Regions from separate parts of the Homo sapiens genome. Here region 1 is linked to region 2. Evidence: fine-mapped expression QTL. A gene starts in region 2. The other region holds a variant in brackets. All regions are shown on one strand. Distances are between the middles of the regions.

Region 1 (10,912 bases), 24 kb after region 2:
AAAAGGAGGGATACTTGGGGGCTTTGCCATCACTGGGGACCCATCATCCCCAGTGATGCCAAATGAGGCCGATTGTGGCCCGGTGGGCATGGCCTGGGCAATCAGGGCTCAAGACCATCAAGCTACGCACGATGGGCCTAGGAGAAGATACTGATGCTGTTTTTCTTTCTCTCTGCCCAGTCTGAAGAAAGGAAAAGAATAGATGAATTGATTGAAAGTGGGAAGGAAGAAGGAATGAAGGTAAGGGGCTGCTGTGCTTGCTGCATCATAGCTAAAGCTGGAAGAGCTCACCTTCCCTGGTCCCGTGGCTGAGAGTGGCCACCATGTGGCTTTCACCCTCTAATGGCCATGGTGACCAGGCAGACTCTATTAGGTTGTCAAAGAGCCAAATACCAAAAGTTGTTAAGGAAATGTCTTATGAAGGAAACATAAATGGGCTTTGTATATAAATGTTATCCAGGGGAAGCTTTTCTTAGAAATTGTGGTTAAACAATTCAGTGGCTTTTTGTACATTCACAATGCAATGCAACCATTATCCCTGTCTAATTTCAGAATTTTTTCATCCTCCCAAATGGAAACCCTTACCCATTACTTACCACTGCCCACCATCCCCACCTCTCCCCTGCCCAGCCCCTGGCAGCCACTCAGCTGCTTTCTGTCTCAGTGGAGTTGCTCTTCTGGGCACTTCATATAAATCGGATTATACAATATGTAGCTGATGCCCAGGGAAACTTTTAAAAGGAGAAACTAATACATTTTTAAACTGTTTTCCTAGATAATGACAATGCCCAAGAAATGTGCTTTTCTCTTACTGTATTTCAACCACACTCAGTTTGGGCGAGAGGAGAAGTACTCTCTACAGTGGGGTTCAGATGGGCCTAGACTAGGGCTCCGGGTTCAGAAAGCTTCCACTTCCACCCACCACCTAGGGGGATTCCGGCTTAAGTCCTGGGCCCCTCCAGCAACCCCATTCAACTCCATGTAGAATAGAGTGAGGAGACACAGGAGAGAAATCGTGGAATGAGGTAGAGACCCAGAACACTGGGCCTGCTGTTTGCCTAGGAAGGCATAGCGCATAGCCCCTAGACAGAGAAACCAGGTGTGTGGATTTGAGCTGTGTCACTGTCTAGCTGTGTGGCCTCAGACACGTGGTTGTGCCTCTTTAAGCCTCAGTTTCCTCATCTACAAAATGGGGCAGTCTCCACCTAGCAGATCTCTCACGAGCTCTGATGTAACTGCTTTGCAGATGAGCACCAAGGAACCACGTTTGTGGAGTGAGGGAACGTTCTAGAGCTGGCCTGTAGTGACGGTTGCACAGCTGTATACACTTCATAAAACCCATCAGCCTGTACATGTAAAGTGAGTGAATTTTATGACATGGCTCAGTACAGCTGTTAAAGACTGGGGTAAGCCCCAGCTCCCCGGAGACCTGCTGTGCACAGTGGCATCCATTGCTATTATGAACCAACACCCTCTCTTATCACCTGACAGATTGACCTCATCGATGGCAAAGGCAGGGGTGTGATTGCCACCAAGCAGTTCTCCCGGGGTGACTTTGTGGTGGAATACCACGGGGACCTCATCGAGATCACCGACGCCAAGAAACGGGAGGCTCTGTACGCACAGGACCCTTCCACGGGCTGCTACATGTACTATTTTCAGTATCTGAGCAAAACCTACTGGTGAGTCCACTGTTGCTTAGAGTGGCTTTTCTGTCCTCTGGGCAGTGAGGAGAGGCCAAAGGGCCAGGAACTCCTGATTCTGTTTGGTGGCCAGTCTTTTGGTTTTGTTGTTGTTGACTTTTTTTTTTTTATTTTTTGAGATGGAGTCTTGCTCTGTTGCCCAGGCTGGAGTGCAGTGGTGTGATCTCGGCTCATTGCAACCTCCTCTCAGGCTCAAAGAATTCTCCTCCCTCAGCCTCCAGAGTAGCCCAGCTAATTTTTTTTTTCTGTATTTTTAGTAGAGGTGGAGTTTTGCCACATTGGCCAAGCTGGTCTTGAACTCCTGACCTCAGACGATCCACCCGCCTTGGCCTTCCAAAGTGCTAGGATTACAGGTGTGAGCCACTGCGCTCGGGCTGTTGTTGCCTTTTTTCAAAGCTGTGATGCAATTATCGCCTGCTTCCTTTTTTTTTTTTTTTTTTTTTTTTTTGAATCTCGATCTGTCGCCCAAGCTGGAGTGCAGTGGCACAATCTTGGCTCACTGCAACCTCCACCTCCCGGGTTCAAGGTATTCTGTCTCAGCCTCCCACGTAACTGGGATTACAGGTGTGCGTCACCACGCCCAGCTAATTCTTATATATTTTTTTAGTAGAGACAGGGTTTCATTATGTTGGCCAGGCTGGTCTGACCTCATATGGTCTGCCTGCCTTAGCCTCCCAAAGTTCTGGGATTACAGATGTGAGCCACTGCGCCTGGCCCCAGCTTCCCTTTTTTTTTTTCTTTTGAGACGGAGTCTCGTTCTGTCACCCAGGCTGGAGTGCAGTGGTGCAATCTTGGCTTACTGCAACCTCCACCTCCCAGGTTCAAGCGATTCTCCTGCCTCAGCCTCCTGAGTAGCTGGGACTACACACACATGCCACCATGCCTGGCTAATTTTTTGTATTTTTAGTAGAGATGGAGTTTCACTGTGTTAGCCAGGATGGTCTCAATCTCCTAACCTTGTGACCTGCCCACCTTGGCCTCCCAAAGTGCTGGGATTACAGGCATGAGCCACTGTGGCCCCAGCTTCCCATTTTTAATCTTTGGAATTGGAGCTGTCCTGGATGTTATCTCATCCAAGGGGAGAAGTGGGCTAGTCACATGAAAACCTGTTAAGCAGCTCACCTGGCTCTCCTTCAGGGCATTTGGCCAGAGCAGCTCTGGAAATCACTAATTGATCTTGCCTGGCTAGGACCAGTGGAGTTGAATTTTTTATTTTTTATTTTATTTTATTTTTTTGAGATGGAGTTTCACTCTTGTTGTCCAGGCAGGAGTGCAGTGGCACGATCTTGGCTCACTGCAACTTCCACTTCCGAAGTTTAAGCAATTCTCCTGCCTCAGCCTCCCAAGTAACTGGGATTACAGGCATGCGCCACCACGCCCAGCTAATTTTGTATTTTTAGCACAGACAGCGTTTCACCATGGTGGCCAGGCTGGTTTTGAAATCCTGACCTCAGGTAATCCACCCGCCTCAGCCTCCGAAAGTGCTGGGATTACAGGCGTGAGCCACCGCGCCTGGCGGGGTTGATTTTTTTAATCCATTTATTTTGTGAAACTCTACCATTTCCTCCTGTGCCTCCATAAAGAGCCCTTTGGGTCCTACCCCATCCCCCCACCCAGGGCCTGTGCAGGCTCTCAAAAATAGCTTTGTGGGCCAGGCGTGGTAGCTCATGCCTGTGATCCCAGCACTTTGGGTGGCCGAGGTGGATGGATCATGAAGGTCAGGAGCTCCAGACCAACATGGCAAAACCCCATCTCTACTAAAAATACAAAAAAATTAGCCTGGCATGGTGGCACACGCTTCTAATCCCAGTGACTCAGGAGGCTGAGGCAGAATTGCCTTACCCCGGGAGGCAGAGGTTGCAGTGAGCTGAGATCGTGCCACTGCACTCCAGCCTGGGCGACAGAGCGACGAGACTCCCTCTCAAAAAAAAAAAAAAAAAAAAAAAAGCTTTGCAAATTGAGCCAGACCTGGTGGCTCGTGCTTGTAATCTCAAAAACTCAGGAGGCCAAGGCCAGAGGATCACTTGAGCCCAGGGGTTGGAGACCAGCCTGAGCAATATAGGGAGATCTTGTCTCTACAGAAACAATTAAAAATTAGCCTGATGTGGTGGCATGTACCTGTGGTCAAAGCTACTCGGGAGGCTGAGGTAGGAGGATGACTTGAGCCCGGGAGGTGGAGGCTGCAGTGAGCCGTGATCGTGCCACTGCACTCCAGCCTGGGTTACGGAGCGAGACCCCCTCTAAAAAGGAAAAAGAAAATAGCTTTATGAATTGAATCTTTTCAAAACACATGGCTTTAAATCAGCATCCCACCAGAGCTGAGCACAAGTGTGACTCTCTTCAGGTTGAAAAGCCTCTTTATCCATTTAATCCTCTCTGGCCCTCCTTCCCCTCCAGCGTGGATGCAACTAGAGAGACAAATCGCCTAGGAAGACTGATCAATCACAGCAAATGTGGGAACTGCCAAACCAAACTGCACGACATCGACGGCGTACCTCACCTCATCCTCATCGCCTCCCGAGACATCGCGGCTGGGGAGGAGCTCCTGTATGACTATGGGGACCGCAGCAAGGCTTCCATTGAAGCCCACCCGTGGCTGAAGCATTAACCGGTGGGCCCCGTGCCCTCCCCGCCCCACTTTCCCTTCTTCAAAGGACAAAGTGCCCTCAAAGGGAATTGAATTTTTTTTTTACACACTTAATCTTAGCGGATTACTTCAGATGTTTTTAAAAAGTATATTAAGATGCCTTTTCACTGTAGTATTTAAATATCTGTTACAGGTTTCCAAGGTGGACTTGAACAGATGGCCTTATATTACCAAAACTTTTATATTCTAGTTGTTTTTGTACTTTTTTTGCATACAAGCCGAACGTTTGTGCTTCCCGTGCATGCAGTCAAAGACTCAGCACAGGTTTTAGAGGAAATAGTCAAACATGAACTAGGAAGCCAGGTGAGTCTCCTTTCTCCAGTGGAAGAGCCGGGACCTTCCCCCTGCACCCCCGACATCCAGGGACGGGGTGTGAGGAAGACGCTGCCTCCCAATGGCCTGGACGGGATGTTTCCAAGCTCTTGTTCCCCTAACGTCTCAACAGGCGCTCACTGAAGTGTATGAATATTTTTTAAAAAGGTTTTTGCAGTAAGCTAGTCTTCCCCTCTGCTTTCTCGAAAGCTTACTGAGCCCCGGGCCCCAAGCACGGGCCGGGCATAGATTTCCTCTTCCACAAGCTGCCGCTTTTCTGGGCACCTTGAAGCATCAGGGCGTGAAATCAAACTAGATGTGGGCAGGGAGAGGGTTGCTTACCTGCCCTGCTGGGGCAGGGTTTCCTGAAACTGGGTTAATTCTTTATAGAAATGTGAACACTGAATTTATTTTAAAAAATAATAATAAAAATTTAAAAAAATTAAAAATAAAAAAAACCACAGAAAACAACTTTACATGTATATAGGTCTTGAAGTGAGTGAAGTGGCTGCTTTTTTTTTTTTTTTTTTTTGCTTTTTTTTGCTTTTTGTAGAAGAGATTGAGAATGGTACTCTAATCAAAAATAAAGTTTTGTAGTGGGACCAGAAATTACTTACCTG[A/G]CATCCACCCCCATTCCCCCTCATCCTGCTGGGGTTGAAAGTTCCAGACCTGCTGTCGAGGCCTTGTGTTTGTCAGACACCCAGTGTCCTCCTGCAAGGACGCAACTGTGAGCTGAGGTGTGAGCCTAGGAGCCCAGGACCCCTGACCCCGGCCGCTGCTGCCAGCCTCAGAAAGGCACCCAGGTGTGCAGGGGAGCACACAGGGCCCGGCAGCCCCCAGGAATCAAGGATAGGGCTAAGGTTTTCACCTTAACTGTGAAGGCAGGAGGAATAGGTGACTGCTTCCTCCCGCCCTTCACAGAACTGATTCTCACACACTGTCCCTTCAGTCCAGGGGGCCGGGGCTCAGGAGCCATGACCTGGTGTCTCCTGCCCACCCTGGTCCCAGGTAAATGTGAATGGAGACAGGTATGAGAGGCTGTCCTCGTCTTTGATTCCCCCCCAACCCCACCTCGGGCCTCACGACGGTGCTACCTAAGAAAGTCTTCCCTCCCACCCCCCGCTAGCCTGGTCAGTGGTCAGCAAATTGGAAGAGGATCCGATGGGAGTGTAAATGTGAGACACAATGTCTTGATTATACCTGTTTGTGGTTTAGCTTTGTATTTAAACAAGGAAATAAACTTGAAAATTATTTGTCATCATAAAAATGAAACAAATTAAAATATTTATTGCCAGGCAAGGCCACGTGTGTGTCTTTCTGTTTTTACAATTTGACTGTGTCACACCAGCATGTCTAAGCTTTGGTAAGCATCCTCCTGGGGAACCAGAAAAGCTTACTGACGTGATTTTGAGCGTGTTTCCCAGAACTCTGAGCTCTTTCGTTTCCTCATCTGTATACTGGGGACCATAGGGTATGTGAAGATTAAAAGTTAATGCTTTTTTTTTTTTTTTTGAGACAGTCTCTGTTACCTAGGCTGGAGTTCAGTGGGGCAGTCTCAGCTCACTGCAACCTCCAACCTCCACCTCCTTGGTTCAAGCAATTCTCGTACCTTGGCTACCTGAATAGCTGGGATTACAGGCATGCACCACCACACCTGGCCTTTTTTTTTTTTTTTTTTTTTTTTTTTTTTGAGATGGAATTTCACTCTGTTGCCCAGGTGGGAGTGCAGTGGCATGATCTGGGCTCACTGCAACCTCTACCTCCCAGGTTCAAGCAATTCTGCCTCAGCCTCCCAAGTAGCTGGGATTACAGGCGCCAGCCACCACACCCAGCTAATTTTTTTGTATTTTTAGTAGAGACGGTCTTTCACCATGTTGACCAGGCTGGTTTCGAACTCCTGACCTCAAGTGATCTGCCCGCCTTGGCCTCCCAAACTGCTAGGATTACAGGCGTGAGCCACTGCACCCGGCCACAGTAGAGACAGGGTTTCACCGTGTTGGCCAGGCTGGTCTCAAACTCCTGACCTTAATGATCCACCCGCCTCGGCCTCCCAAAATGCTGGGATTATAGGCATGAGCCACCACGCCCAGCTTAAAAGTTAATGCATTTTGAGCCTTAGAACAATGGCACATAGTAAGCATCATAAACTTTAGCTGATGTAATTGTCATTGCGACTTATAATTTACTAGACTTGATGATTCTCAGGAGGCTCTGAATCATCACTGCACCTGTCTTGGGCTGGAAGTCCCTATTACCAGCCCAGATCCCTGTCCCCTCCATGCTTGGGCACTGGTGGTAGATTGGAACAGTGAGTAGAGCCCTTGGCTTAGATGCAAAAGATCCAGTTCCAGCATCAGTTTTAAGTGTTTGTCAGCCGTGTGACATTGGTCAAGTCACTTCCCCTCTCTGAAACTTGTCTCAAATAGGGATAATCTCTGCCCACTTGACTTGCCTCCTCCCCCAAAGATTCAGGCATCAGTATTATAGCTTCACCTTGGAGGGGACATGTGGCTGCTGGAACAGAACCTCTGCTTCCAATCCACTGCTGTGTAACTTGGGCAGGTACGTAGTCTCCTTGTGCGTCAGTTTCCCTCCCTGTAACATGGAGACAGTAATAATACTTGTACAGGGTGATTGTGAGGATTTAATGAGTTAATACAAAAAAAAAAAAAACAACACTTGGAACAGTGCCTTGCACATAGCCTTCAGTAATCAGTATTAGCTATTATTAGAATTAAAAATTTGGCTAGCTTCTATTCAGTGTTTACAAGTACTCAGGACTAATAGCTAATAAGTGCCTCCAAGTTCTGATATGTAGTTGCTATATTTATTTGTTCATTTTACTTTTTGTAGAGATAGGGTCTCACTATGTTGCCCAAGCTAGTCTCAAACCCCTGGCCTCAAGCGATCCTCATGCCTCACCCTCCCACAGGGCTGTGATTACAGGCATGCGTGAGCCACTGTGCCTGACTTATTTTTATTTATTTATTTATTTTTTTTTTGAGATGGAGTCTTGGTCTGTCTGTCGCCCAGGCTGGAGTGCAGTGGTGCAATCTCAGCTCACTGAAACCTCCACCTCCCGGGTTCAAGCGATTCTCCTGCCTCAACCTCCTGAGTAGCTAGGATTACAGGCGTGCATCACCACACCCAGCTAATTTTTGTATTTTTAGTAGAGACGAGGTTTCACCATGTTGGCCAGGCTGGTCTCCTGACCTCGTGATCTGCCCATCTCCCAAAGTGCTAGGATTACAGATGTGAGCCACCGCGCCCAGCCCTATTTGTTCATTGTAAAAGATGACTGCTGGCCAGGCACGGTAATCCCTGTAATCCCACCACTTTGGGAGGGCGAGGCAGGCGGATTATGAGGTCAGGAGCTGAGATCCTGCCACTGCACTCCGGCCTGGGCGACAGAGCGAGACTCTGTCTCAAATAAATAAAATAAAAGATGATTGCTACAGCAACCACCTCCTGTGCCTTCTGAGACTTGGCTTGAAAACCTTTTTTTTTTTTTTTTTTTTTTTGAGACGGAGTCTCATTCTGTCGCCCAGGCTGGAGTGCAGTGGCATGAACTCAGCTCACTGCAACCTCTGCCATCCAGGTTCAAGCAATTCCCCTGCCTTGGCCTCCTGAATAGCTAATTTTTGTATTTTTAGTAGAGACAGGGTTTCACCTTCTTGGCCAGGCTGGTCTCGAACTCCTGACCTTGTGATCCACCCACCTCGGCCTCCCAAAGTGCTAGGATTACAAGCATGAGCCACTGCACCCGGCGAAAACCTACTTCTGAGCCTGTTCCTCCCCGGTCTAGGTTTGTAGTTGGAATCCTGCAGTGTGAGAACCGCCAGAGCTCAGCTGACGTCACAGCTCTGTTACCTGTTGTCAAGCTAGGCCCATCTCTAGGAGAATCACCCCAAGGACTTATTTTCCAAAATGCCCACCTGCCAGCATCAGATTTTACCAAGAGTTGCAGTCCAAGCATTTCTCACCGTAACTTTTTTTAGTCTCCTGGGGTACCACAGCCACCCAGGCCATCTTAACCTTTCTTTCTGAGTGGGTTCTCTTACCCTATCTATCCCCACAGGGAGGCAGGGGAGCATTTATATATTTGGAGACAGGGTCTCACTCTGTCACCCAGGCTGGAGTGTAGTGGTGTGATCATAGCTCACTGCAGCCTCAAACTCCCGGGCTCAATTAATCTTCCCGCCTCAGCCTCCCCAGGAGCTGGGACTACAGGTGCTCACCACCATGCCTGGCTAATTTTTTGTTTTTTGTAAAGATAGGTTCTTACTATGTTGCCTAGGCTGGTCTCGAACTCCTGGGCTCAAGCAATCCTCTCACCTTGGCCTCCAAAAGTGCTGGAATTACAGGCTTGAACCACTATGCCTGGCCAGGGTTGCAGTGTTACACAGGGTTCTAGGGATTAGGAGCCCTGATCTAATGATGCTGTTGAGACAGTGTTCTGGACTAGACTCTTAAACACTACCAGCTCTTCCTGGAAGGCAGAGTGGTTGAAGCCTGTGTGTGGACTTTGTATCTGGGCTCAAGTCCTGCTTCTACCACTTTCTAGCTGAGGACCTTAGACAAGACTTTTCACCCATTATGCCTTAACCTCCTTGGGAGGACCCCAAGGACAATAGTGATACCCATCCCACAAAAGTATGTGAGACAGCATCGGAAAGGTACTTAGAATGATGCAGGCGAGGCATACAGTAAATTATTACTATTATTAGGACTTGCCAGTGACTCTGGACCCATAAAGCTTGGCAGCTCCGCGCCCGGGCCTTGGAATCAGGCCTGCATTTGCCTCCTGGGCAAGCTGCTTCCTAGCTCCACAGCCAGAGTTTCAGTTTCTAAACCTATAAACTGGCCGGGCACGGTGACTCACGCCTGTAATCCCAGCACTTTGGGAGGCCGAGGAGGGCGGATCATGAGGTCAGGAGTTCGAGACCAGCCTGGCCAATATGGTGAAACCCCGTCTCTACAAAAATACAAAAATTAACCCAGTGTGGTGGCATATACCTATAGTCCCAGCTAGTCGGGAGGCTGAGGCAGGAGCATCGCTTGAATCTGGGAGGCAGAGATTGCAGTGAACCCAGATGGTGCCACTGCACTCCAGCCTGGGCGATAGAGCAAGACTCCGTCCCCACCACCCCCCAAAAAAAAGCCGGGTGCGGTGGCTCACGCCTGTAATCCCAGTGTGTCCGGAATTGGTGGGTTCTTGGTCTCACTGACTTCAAGAATGAAGCCGCGGACCCTCGCGGTGAGTGTTACAGTTCTTAAAGGTGGCGTGTCCAGAGTTTGTTCCTTCTGATGTTCAGATGTGTTCGGAGTTTCTTCCTTCTGGTGGGTTCGTGATCTCGCTGGCTCAGGAGTGAAGCTGCAGACCTTCGTGGTGAGTGTTACAGCTCTTAAGGCGGCGCGTCTGGAGTTGCTCGTTCCTCCTGGTGGGCTCCTGGTCTCCCTAGCTTCAGGAGTGAAGCTGCAGACCTTCGGGGTGAGTATTACAGCTCATAAAAGCAGTGTGGACCCAAAGAGTAAGCAGTAGTAAGATTTATTGCAAAGAACAAAAGAACAAAGCTTCCACAATGCGGAAAGGAACCCGAGCGGGTTGCCACTGCTGCCTGGGGCAGCCTGCTTTTATTCTCTTATCTGGCCCCACCCACATCCTGCTGATTGGTAGAGCCAAGTGGTCTGTTTTGACAGGGCGCTGATTGGTGCGTTTACAATCCCTGATCTAGACACAAAGGTTCTCCACGTCCCCACCAGATTAGCTAGATACAGAGTGTGGACACAAAGGTTCTCCAAGGCCCCACCAGAGTAGCTAGATACAGAATGTCGATTGGTGCATTCACAAACCCTGAGCTAGACACAGGGTGCTGATTGGTGTGTTCACAAACCTTGAGCTAGATACAGAGTGCCGATTGGTGTATTTACAATCCCTGAGCTAGACACAAAGGTTCTCCACGTCCCCAGCAGACTCAGGAGCCCAGCTGGCTTCACCCAGTGGATCCCGCACCGGGGCTGCAGATGGAGCTGCCTGCCAGTCCCGTGCCCTGTGCCTGCACTCCTCAACCCTTGGGTCGTTGATGGGACTGGACACCATGGAGCAGGGGGTGGGGCTCGTGGAGGAGGCTTGGGCCGCACAGGAGCCCACGGAGGGGGTGGGAGGCTCAGGCATGGCGGGCTGCAGGTCCCGAGCCCTGCCCCACGGGAAGGCAGCTAAGGCCCGGCGAGAAATCGAGCGCAGCGCCGG
Region 2 (10,912 bases):
GAGGCTGTCTCTGGGAGTGTACAAAGAACCTGGAGACTGAACCAAATACTACTGCCAGAGGCAGTGTTATTACTGAGGGGAACATGCTAGGAATAGTAAGCAAACAGGCAAGAACAAGTCCCCTCTCTTCCTCCTGCCTCCCAGACTGCTTCTATCTGCTCTCATTGGAAGAACCTAACATTAACTGAGAACGGGGAATTATGGTTTGCTGCTCTGTATCACAGAACAGGGTAGAAATGTGGATATTACCCAGGCTGATCTCAAACTTATGAGATCAAGCGATACACCTGCCACGGACTCCCAAAGTGCTGGGATTACAAGCATAAGCCACCAGGCCTGGCCTGCCTTTTTTCCTTATAGCATTAATCACTATTTATAATGATCTTTTGGGCTGGGAGCAGTGGCTCATGCCTGTAGTCCTAGCAATTTGGAAGGCCAAGGTGGGCAGATCACTTGAGGTCAGGAGTTTGAGACCAGCCTGGCCAACATGGCAAAACCCCACCTCTACTAAAAATACAAAAATTAGCTGGGTGTGGTGGCGGGTGCCTGTAATCCCAGCTATCTGGGAGGCTGAGGCAGGAGAATCGCTTGAACCCGGGAGGCGGAGGTTGTGGTGAGCCAAGATCCTGCCACTTCACTCCAGCTTGGGCGATAGAGCAAGACTCTGTCTCAAAAAATAAATAGGCCGGGTGCGGTGGCTCACCCCTGTAATCCCAGCACTTTGGGAGGCCGAGGTGGACTGATCATCACCTGAGGTCAGGAGTTTGAGACCAGCCTGACCAACATGGAGAAACCCTTGTCTCTACTAAAAATACAAAATTAGCTGGGTATCGTGGCGCATGCCTGTAATCCCAGCTACTCGGGAGGTTGAGGCAGGAGAATCGCTTGAACCTGGGAGGTGGAGGTTGCGGTGAGCCGAGATTGTGCCATTGCACTCCAGCCTGGGCAACAAGAGTGAAACTCTGTCTCAAAAAATAAATAAATAAAATAAATAAATTAATTAAATTAAATAATCTTTTGGATGGGCGTGTGGCTCACGCCTGTAGTCCCAACACTTCGGGAGGCCAAGGCAGGTAGATCATTTGAGGTCAGGAATTCAAGACCAGCCTGGCCAACGTGGTGAAACCCCTTCTCTACCAAAAATACAAAAATATGCCCGGGCGCGGTGGCTCACGCCTGTAAGGCAAGCGCTTTGGGAGGCTGAGGCGGGTGGATCACTTGAGGCCAGGAGTTCAAGACTAGCCTGGGGAGCATGGTGGAACCCCGTCTCTACTAAAAATACAAAAAAGAAATAGCTGGGTGTTTTGGCGCATGCCTATAATCCCAGCTACTCGGGAGGCTGAGGCAGGAGAATTGCTTGAACCTAGGAGGCAGAGGTTGCAGTGAGCCGAGATCACGCCATTGCACTCCAGCCTGGGTGACAGAGCGAGACTCCGTCTCAAAAAAAAAAAAATAGGTGGGCATGATGGCACACTCTTGTAATCCCAACTACTTGGGAGGCTGAGGCAGGAGAATTGCTTGAGCCCAGGAGGTGGAGGTTGCAGTGAGTCGAGAACGTGCCCCTGCACTCTAGCCTGGATGACAGAATGCGACCCTGTCTTAAAAAATAAATAAAATAAAAATAATCTTTTAGGCTAGGGGTGGTGGGCTCATGCCTGTAATCCTAGCACTTTGGAAGGCTGAGGCAGCTGGATCACATGATGCCAGGAGTTTGAGACCAGACTGGCCAACATGGAGAAACACTATCTCTATTAAAAATACAAAAATTGGGCTGAGCGCAGTGGGTCACGCCTGTAATCCCAGCACTTTGGGAGGCTGAGGCCGTCATATCAATTGAGGTTAGGAGTTCGAATCCAGCCTGGCCAACATGGTGAAACCCCATCTCTACTAAAAATACAAAAATTAGCCAGCCATGGTAGTGGGCGCCTATAATTCCAGCTACTCAGAATGCTGAGGCAGGAGAATTGCTTGAGCCCAGGAGGCAGATGTTGCAGTGAGCCGAGATCAAACCACTGCACTCCAGCCTAGGGAGACAGAGAGAGACTCCGTCTCAAGAAAAATAAAAATAAATAAACAAAATGATCTTTTTTTTCTTTTTTCTCTTTTTTTTTTTTTGAGATGGAGTCTCTCTTTGTCGCCTAGGCTGGAGTGCAGTGGCGTGATCTCGGCTCACTGCAAGCTCTGCCTCAGCCTCCCGAGTAGCTGGGACTCCAGGTGCCTGCCACCACGCCCGGCTAATTTTTTTTTTTTTGTATTTTTAGTAGAGATGGGGTTTCACCGTGTTAGCCAGGATGGTCTCGATCTTCTGACCTGGTGATCCGCCCACCTCAGCCTCCCAAAGTGCTGGGATTACAGGTGTGAGTCACCACACCCAGCCTTAAAATTATCTTTTAAATAATGCCTTGTTTCTTCCCTAAAAGAATGCAGGGAAGGAGCTGTGTCTACTTTCCCTTCGGATCCTTGGGGGATCCAAAACAGCGGCAGGCATAGAGCTCAATAAATGTTGAAATAATCAATTTTGGAGAAAGCAAACACCTCTCTCTCTATATATATTTTTTGTTTGTTTGTTTGTTTGTTTTGAGACAGAGTCTCGCTCTGGTGCCCAGGCTGGATTGCAGTGGGACGATCTTGGCTCACTGCAACCTCTGCCTCCCGGGTTCAAGCACTTCTCCGCCTCAGCCTCCTGAGTAGTGAGATTACAGGCACGCACCACCACGCCTGGCTAATTTTTGTATTTTTAGTAGAAACGGGGTTTTCACCATGTTGGTCAGGCTGGTCTTGAATTCCTGACCTCGTGATCCACCTGCCTCGGCCTCCCAGAGTGCTGGGATTACAGGTGAGAGCCACTGCACACTGCCACACTTCCACATATTTATGGAAGCTGTAAGGCATGTTGGAGATTACGGCACCAGCTCCTTCATTTGACAGGTAGGGAAATGGAAGGCCAGAGAGCTGAACTGATGTGCCAAGTGACACAGTGACTTTGTGACAAAAGTGTCCTTTTCTACCTTTCCCAGTGCTTTCACATATATCATTTTATTTTCCTTTCCTATTTTCCTGGTGCTTTGGAAGAGTCTTTGGGCAATGGTTGGGTCTCCAAAACCTTTTCAATTACCAAAGAGACAGGATGGATTAGTGACCTCGTCCCACACCCCTGGGAGGGGCCCCAGGGAAGAGCAGTAGTAACTGGACGCCTTCCCTGAGTCCAAAGCAGACACTCCAGGACACCTGATTCTCTGGGAACATACTGACTGAGCCCCCTCTCTCAGAGGGGAACAGCGAATACTTGCTTCCCTCGGGATAAGGTAGCCATTTAGTGTTTGAACAGTGGAGAGACTGACCCAGGCCCTGCAATTACATTGCTGGGTGACCTTGGGCAGCGCGTAAGTGACCCGCTTCCTCTATTGCCCCATCTGTAAAATGGGTGGGTGTGAAGCATTAGGATCTTTGCGGTCCTGGAAGGACCTTCCCTACTGACCCAGTTAGTTGGTAGGAGTTGTGTCTGTGGGTTTTTTTTTTTTTCTTTTTTTGAGACGGAGTCTCGTTCTGTCGCCCAGGCTGGAGTGCAGCGGCGTGATCTCGGCTCACTGCAAGCTCTGTCTCCCGGGTTCACGCCATTGTCCTGCCTCGGCCTCCCAGGTAGCTGGGACTACAGGCGCCCGCCACCACGCCCGGCTCATTTTTTTTGTATTTTTAGTAGAGACGGGGTTTCACCGTGTTAGCCAGGATGGTCTCGATCTCCTGACCTCGTAATCCACCCGCCTCGGCCTCCCAAAGTGCTGAGATTACAGGCGTGAGCCACCGCGCCCGGCCGGGTTTTGAATACTGGAATATTCAATAAACCTTTTTTTTTTTTTTTTTTTTTGAGACAGTGTTTCGCTCTTGTTGCCCAGGCTGGAGTGCAATGGCGCGATCTCGGCTCACCGTAACCTCTGCCTCCCGAGTAGCTGGGATTACATGCTATTCTCCGGCCTCAGCCTCCCGAGTAGCTGGGATTACATGCATGCGATACCACGCCCGGCTAATTTTGTATTTTTAGTAGAGACTGGGTTTCTCTATATTGGTCAGGCTGGTCTCGAACCACGGACCTCAGGTGATCCGCCCGCCTCAGCCTCCCAAAGTGCTGGGATTACAGGCATGAGCCACCGCGCCCGGCCAAAACCTTTCAAACCTGAGAATGAATGGATCAAACTGCTGGAGAGGTCGGTGTGCTGGAGTTGCTAAACTGCTGGGAGACTCAGGTTTCCCAGCTCTTAAGGGAAGATCGAGGGGTCAAAGGTCGGGTTCCGGTCAAGCCCACAGAGAACCGGAAGTCCCAGATCCGGTCGGCTCGGAGCCCAGGGCTCCAGCCGGGCTACTCACGCTCCGGAGGCGGAGCTTCAGCAGCGGGAGGGGGAGGAATCTGGGGCCTCCCAATGGCAGCTCGGGTGTCTTCCATCGCAGCCATTCAACGTCTGGCGACGGTCAAATTTAAACACCCCTCCCACCTCCTCCGCCGGGACCTGTCGGGAAAGCGTTTGCAGTTATTGCGGCGGCTGGACACGCCCCGCCGCCGAAGAGGCGGGAGAAGGGCGGGGCCTTTCTCCGAGTTGGCCTATCACTACGGGCAGCCTGCGGAGAGGCGGGAGGCGGCGCCAATCGGGGCGAGCAGCTGGAGCCCGGCGGAGCAGTTGGCTGAGTTGTTGCAACTTTTTTCGAAAGCTGGGTTTCCCGGGAGATCCCAGGCGGTGACAGAGTGGAGCCATGGCTAGAGGTATTTGCCCAAGTGGCCGGCACCGGAGCGGCTGGGTCGGGGGTCGTGCTGGAGGGGTTGCCGGGGTGGAGGCAGCGGCTGCGGGGAGGCGTCCTCCTCGGGTGGCTCGGGGCAAGCTTGGGGACCCGCGTGGGGGGAGAGGGGGTGCTGCTGCGGAACCCGCCGGCCCCCCCTTGCGGCTCCAGATGCCCCCAGAAACCCTTCCCACTGCCGTGCTTCTGTTTCCCTTCTATGAAGTGAACACCTGCGGGCCTGCCTCTCCACGGCAGCAGATCCATATGTCAGAGCTCTTTGGAAACTAAAGCGCAGGGCACCTCCAGGGAATAGGTGTTATTGATAGAAGTGGGGCGGGGGCAGGAGTGAGGCTTCGCCCACTTTGGGGCCCTCTCTCTTTGGGAAAGGAGGTGATCCCGAGGCGAAGGCGCAGATCGATAACCTGCATATTGGGGTGCGCGTCAGGGTGGACACCGCAGCAGGCGCCTTTCCTCCCTCCCCACGTCCTGAGTCAGCTCTGCGCCGCTGGAGCGAAGGCCGGGCCCCGCTGGCCCACTTTGGGGTAAAACGGGTTCCTGGCATCTCGCGGGCGCGGTCGTTCGCCCCGCATCTGGTCAGGACTTCGCCCCCCGGTAGATGGCTTGGGTGGGCTTGTACAGCCCTGGGAGGCGATGCCCTGTCTGAAGTCCTCTGCATACTTAGTTGGCTGTCAGGACAGTGCCTCCCAGGTATGCGGCAAAGAGATCTCCAACCGCTTGGTCATTTCCAGCCACTGCGTCTCCTTCACGCCAAAGGGCCAAAAACTTGAGCGTGAAAGTTGAGTAGAATTAGTATTAAAAAAAAAAAAAAGTTTTGGTATTATATTTTTCTCAAAATTTCAAGGCTTCAAGTGTTAGTAGGAATTTGCTTTAGTGCAGTATGCTCCCTATAGCAATAATAATGAATAAAATAATGATTCATTCAGTAAATATCTATTGGGTCCCTTTGTTTTCAGGCCCTGAAGTCAGTTGCATCATCTATTCTCCTAGCATCCCTAGAGGTTCTTTTGGGATAAGACTTACCCAGAGCCTGATGAAAAAATGAGGCATAGTAAACTTCAGGTTAAAGAGCTTCATCACTCAACTCTTGGAGAAAATTAATACTAATATTTTTCCTTTGAAAAGTGTTAAGCATCTAAAAGTATATTTAACATTATCTGACTAATTTATCTGACAAATTTTAATAAAACTATGCTTCCTGGGTTCATTTTTCTCATCACAGCAAAATCATTTAAACTACTTGTTTTAAAAGTAGTGCATTAATTAATATATGAAGAAAACTAACCATCTATCATTGAAATACTTAAAATATGACTAAATAATAATTATGGCCAGGCATGGTGGCTCACACCTGTAATCCTAGCACTTTGGGAGGCCAAGGCGGGCAGATCACCTGAGGTCGGGAGTTCGAGACCAGTCTGACCAACATGGAGAAATCCCGTCTCTACTAAAAATACAAAATTAGCCGGGCATGGCAGCGCATGCCTGTAATCCCAGCTACTTGGGAGGCTGAGGCAGGGAGAATTGCCTGAACCTGGGAGGTGGAGCTTGCAGTGAGCCGAGATTACGTCACCGCACTCCAGCATGGGCAACAGAGCAAGACTCCATCTCAAAAAAACAAACAAGAACAATAACAAAATAATAATAATTACCACTGAGGGCCAGGCACTTTATTAACTCAATTGATCTTTACAAATTGTTATTCTCATTTTTTGGAAGAGGAAGCGTGAAGTCCAAACTTGCTGTCCAGACTCTAGCTTGGCTGGGTCTTTGCTTGTGCCACCCAACCTCCCTTACTTACCCAAAGCGAAGATAATGTTTGTCAGCTCCTCCCATGGCAGCTTACAAATCACCTATGTAATTATTAGTTATTGATTCTCACTGTCTCACTTGACCCCCAAATTAGTAGTTACCTGTTTCTTAGGCTTTACTGCCCTTGCAAGCTATTAAATTGGATATTTAGATTTAGATTTTTTTTTTTTTTTTTTTTTTTGAGACAGAGTCTCTCTCTGTCACCCAGGCTGGAGTACAGTGGAGTGATTTCAGCCCGCTTCACCCTCCCTCTCCTGTGTTCAAGTGATTCTTGTGCCTCAGCTTCCCAAGTAGCTGGGATTACAGGCACCTGTCACCACACCCAGCTAATTTTTGTATTTTTAGTAGAGACGGGGTTTCGCCATGTTGGCCAGGCTAGTCTTGAACTCCTGACCTCAGGTTATCTGCCCACCTCGGCCTCCCAGAGTGCTGGGATTACAGGCAAAAGCCACCACGCCTGGCCAATATTTAGAATTGTAAATACCAAATCATTTACAGCACTTCAAATGAACAGTCTTTTTCTTCTAGAAAATTGGGCTTTGAACTTGCAATTCACTTTGAGAGCCCTGCTGGGTCACAGAAACAAACTGGTCAGATGCCAGGCAACACCTCACTCATTTTGAAGTTTTATAATCATGCAAATATTTACAACCCCAATATATTAGTCTCAGGGGTCAGTCCACCTACCTTTCACTATTTCTACTGCCATTGTTGAATGGTCTCTTGGTTGGTTGCCCTCCTCATTTTGCCATCTTCAGTTCATTATCCCTTAGCACCTGGTGGGGGGGTCTCCAAAAATACAGACTTTTCTTTTTTTTTGGGAGACAGAGTCTCACTCTGTCACCCAGGATAGAGTGCAGTGGCACAATCTTGGCTCACTGCAAACTCCACCCCCCTGGGTTCAAGTGACTCTCCTGCCTCAGCCTCCCAAGTAGCTGGGATTACAGGCATGCGCAACCACGCCAAGCTAATTTTTGTATTTTTAGTAGAGACGGGGTTTCGCCATGTTGGCCAGGCTGGTCTCAAACTCCTGATTTCAGGTGATTTGCCCTCCTCTGCCTCCCAAGGTGCTGGGATTACAGGTGTGAGCCACTGCGCCCAGCTGGTGTATTTGTTATATACGTATAAACTTGCGGAGAAAGGACTGTTTTGAAACTTACATTGAATGATCTGTATTTACATCTTCTAGGTACTGGAGCTGCAGAATTGAGAGGAATAGGTGCTAGACTTGTAATGTGTCCCCTGCAATTGGGGGCTCAAATGCAGAGAAAGCTATGACCATGAGTGGGGCGTGGGGTGTGGCTCGGTATACTAGAATGTGAAATGGATAAGATGATCTATGTGGGTGCTTCCTGCTCCAAAACCATGATTCTCATGGCAGTTAAGCTGCAAAACTTCTCTGCCTTGCAGAAATAGAAGACGCTTTCAAATGGCTCAACCTGGTTATCAGAGTGTCACTTTCGAATCCTCTTTCACCCTCTGGGTAATCTTTTGGATATTCAACTGTAGTAGGCTCTGCAGAGGGCATAGGCAGAGTACCTAGCCCACTGGAGTTAGTGGTTGGGCTGGAGACCCTGCCTTGAAGGATGCTAAAGCATGAGCTGATTTGGGAGGGATTGTCTGAGCAGTGACCTGTCACCACCTAATCCTACTCAGTCTTATCCGTTCCAATGGGAGTCGAGGGAGGCTAGGTGGGAGGATGGCTACAAACAGCCATTTGCTTATCTGTGGATGTTGGAAGGTGCTCTGGTGGATTATGGAATTCAAGGTTCTTGGTTTTTACCCATGAGGACACTGAGGCCCAGACTGGGGAAGTGACTTGGCGATGGTCACAAAACACCTCTGGGCAGATGCAGGGAAATAAGTCCAGCCCCTGACTCCCAGGCCATGGGCCAGGCTGCAGGAGCTGGATGCCTTGAAGTGTCTTGTTTGCATCTATGACTTTGCACAAATACAGTGAATCTGGCTGTGGGCCCTCAAGCCTTAATGGCCACAGAGTAGTGGTGCAGGGCAGTGAGCTATGCTGAAACAGCCACCAGAGTGACGGGAACCTCGTCTGCCTATGGGGGCATTTTCTCACGGCGGGATAGGAGAACAAGGTGACATGTTAAACCCTTCTGCAAGACCATTTGCTTCTCCCAAACTCCATTTCCTCATCTGTAACCAGGAAGGGTAGTGGCTGGGAGGGCAAGGCCCTGGGGTCAGTTGGCTGGGGCTGAAAACCCATCTAGTTCTGAGAACTTGGCCAAGCTCCTCACTTTCTCCATCTGTTGAAAAGAGATAATAATGGTGTCTACCTTTGCAGGGCTGCTGTGAGGTTTCAGTGAGATAACGGCAAGAGACTCGCCCAGGAAACCGATCATTATAACCCCTGGCTCTGTCTCCCCAGGGCTTCCTACCGGTCAAGTACAGCCCTTCTGGGTTTGACACCTGGCCCCATCACTTCCTAGTTCTGTGGCCCGGGACAAACCCCTGCACATCCCTTGAGTCACAGTGTCACCATTGTAAGCTGGGATGCCGACAGGACCTGCCCCCGTGGGCGTGCGGGGAGGATTCAATGCCTGTGAAACTCTCGGTGGGCACAGCGCCGGGCACACCCGAGGGCCTGGCCTGGCGCGTTCACCGCTGCTGATTTCGTCTGGCACAGACCGGGTTCCCAAAATATCCGCAGAGCCAGCGGAAAAAGGAGCCGGGCGGGCTGGCGGGAGGGCGGGCGGGAGCCTGGGCTGTCATGACGGTGTTTCCCACCCCTTCCTCCGCGAGTGGCTGAGGCCGCGCGAGAGGGGGCGCGCCCGAGCCGGGATTCGCCGCGCCCGCCCGCCCGCCCTCCGGAGCGGCCTGGCGGCGCCGCCCCTACCAGCCCCCTCCCCGGGCCGGGCGCCGGACGGTGGGCGGCTGCGAGCGGGCGGGAGGGCTGCGGAGGACGCGCCGCCTGCGCCTCCTTCCCTTCGTGCCTCGCCCCGGGCGGCCCGGGGCTGCCGCGGTGCGCGGGTGCCGGGCCCTGCCTCGCCGGCCATGGGGGAAGGGGGCGCCGTGGGGCGCCGCCGGCCCTTCCCCGGGGCGCCGCGGCGGCGCTGGTGGCGGCGGCGAGGGCGCGGGGCGCGCCGCCATGGGCCTGGCCGGGCTGCAGGTGGGTGTGTCGGGCCCGGCCGCGCGGGGGGCGGGCGGCGCGCGGGGCCTGGCCGGGCCGGGCGGCGGGAGGGCGACGCGGGCTCCGGCCCGGCCCTCCCGGCTGCGCGGGCGGCTCACCAGAGCCGGGGCCTCGAAATATGGCTGCGGCGGGAGGCGCCGTCGCGGCGCCCGGCCCGGGCGGCCCCGCTCCCCGCCCCGCCGCGCCCTGAGCGCCCCCTCCCCCGCTTCCCCCGGGTCCCCTTCTCCAGGCAGGAAGATGTCCAAGCCCCGCGCGGTGGAGGCGGCGGCGGCGGCGGCGGCGGTGGCAGCGACGGCCCCGGGCCCGGAGATGGTGGAGCGGAGGGGCCCGGGGAGGCCCCGCACCGACGGGGTAAGCAGGCACCCTCCCCGCACCCCTGCGGCGCGCCCGCCGGGCCGGGGCCGCGAGCACATGGGCGACCCCGGGTACCCGCCCGGGGCGCCCGGCCGGGCCGCTTCCTTTGCTGCCGCCTGGCTGGGAGTGGCGCCCACACGGCTCCGCCATGAGCCTGGCGGTGTTTGACCTCGGAAAAGTTTGACTGCGCCTTCGTGGCGTCTCCGCAGCCCAAGACCCTACTTCCCCGGAGGTGGCCGCGGTCCCAGGCTGTGCGGGGCCTGCGCGGGCCCCTCGGAGAGGTCACGGGTCTCACCGCCTCGGTGTTGAATGGTCCCCGAGGCGGCGAGGGCCCGGCGTTGCTTCTGGGGACGCCCTCCTCCGTCTGTACTTACTCAGAGGAGGGGCCCCACGCCCAGAGGCGCCCGCAGTGACCTGAACCGCCCCACCGCCCCGTCCACTCTCTTACTGACGCCCAGGTGCGGCTTGCGACAAAGTGGCCGCCCCGAATGCGCTGGCTGTGGCTCCTGCTCTTCCCAGATTCCCCAGTCACCCTGAGAGAAGTCCTCCCGTCGCAGCCCTGGAGGCTGCGGGGCTGCAGTGATTTGAGAGGGGTCAGGCTCCGGCGCTCATGGGGCTCTGGCTGTGCTGACAGGCCCTCCAGCCGCCCTCAGCACCAAGTGGTTAATCAGGTTCCCCGGGGCGTGTTTCTGTGCTGAGTCCCTGCGGCTCCTGCCAGGGCAGTGAACTCCTAAAGATAGCCTAGCTCTTCACATGCCCAGGTCCTTTTGACCTCCCTGTTGCGGGTAGGCTGTCTTCTTCCTATATAGA

What was found.
Region 1: its variant is fine-mapped to the expression of KMT5A in whole blood (INTERVAL, PIP 0.98).

The regions. Positions count from the first base shown.
Region 1 is chr12:123,403,393-123,414,304 of GRCh38, forward strand. KMT5A (lysine methyltransferase 5A) reads left to right here. Exons shown (of 8, transcript NM_020382.7): 6 at 181-240; 7 at 1,492-1,682; 8 at 4,101-5,961. The coding sequence ends at 4,311. It also overlaps a transcript of RILPL2 not described here. Among named protein-coding and RNA genes, the nearest start is that of KMT5A, 25 kb to the left of the region's middle. The variant A/G (reference allele first, on the strand shown) is at 5,283.
Region 2 is chr12:123,379,456-123,390,367 of GRCh38, forward strand. KMT5A (lysine methyltransferase 5A) reads left to right here and starts at 4,677. Exons shown (of 8, transcript NM_020382.7): 1 at 4,677-4,753; 2 at 9,978-10,099. The coding sequence starts at 4,744. RefSeq lists silencers at 3,648-3,870, 4,798-4,967, 9,319-9,678, 10,099-10,208 and enhancers at 3,835-4,565, 4,088-4,307, 5,148-5,307.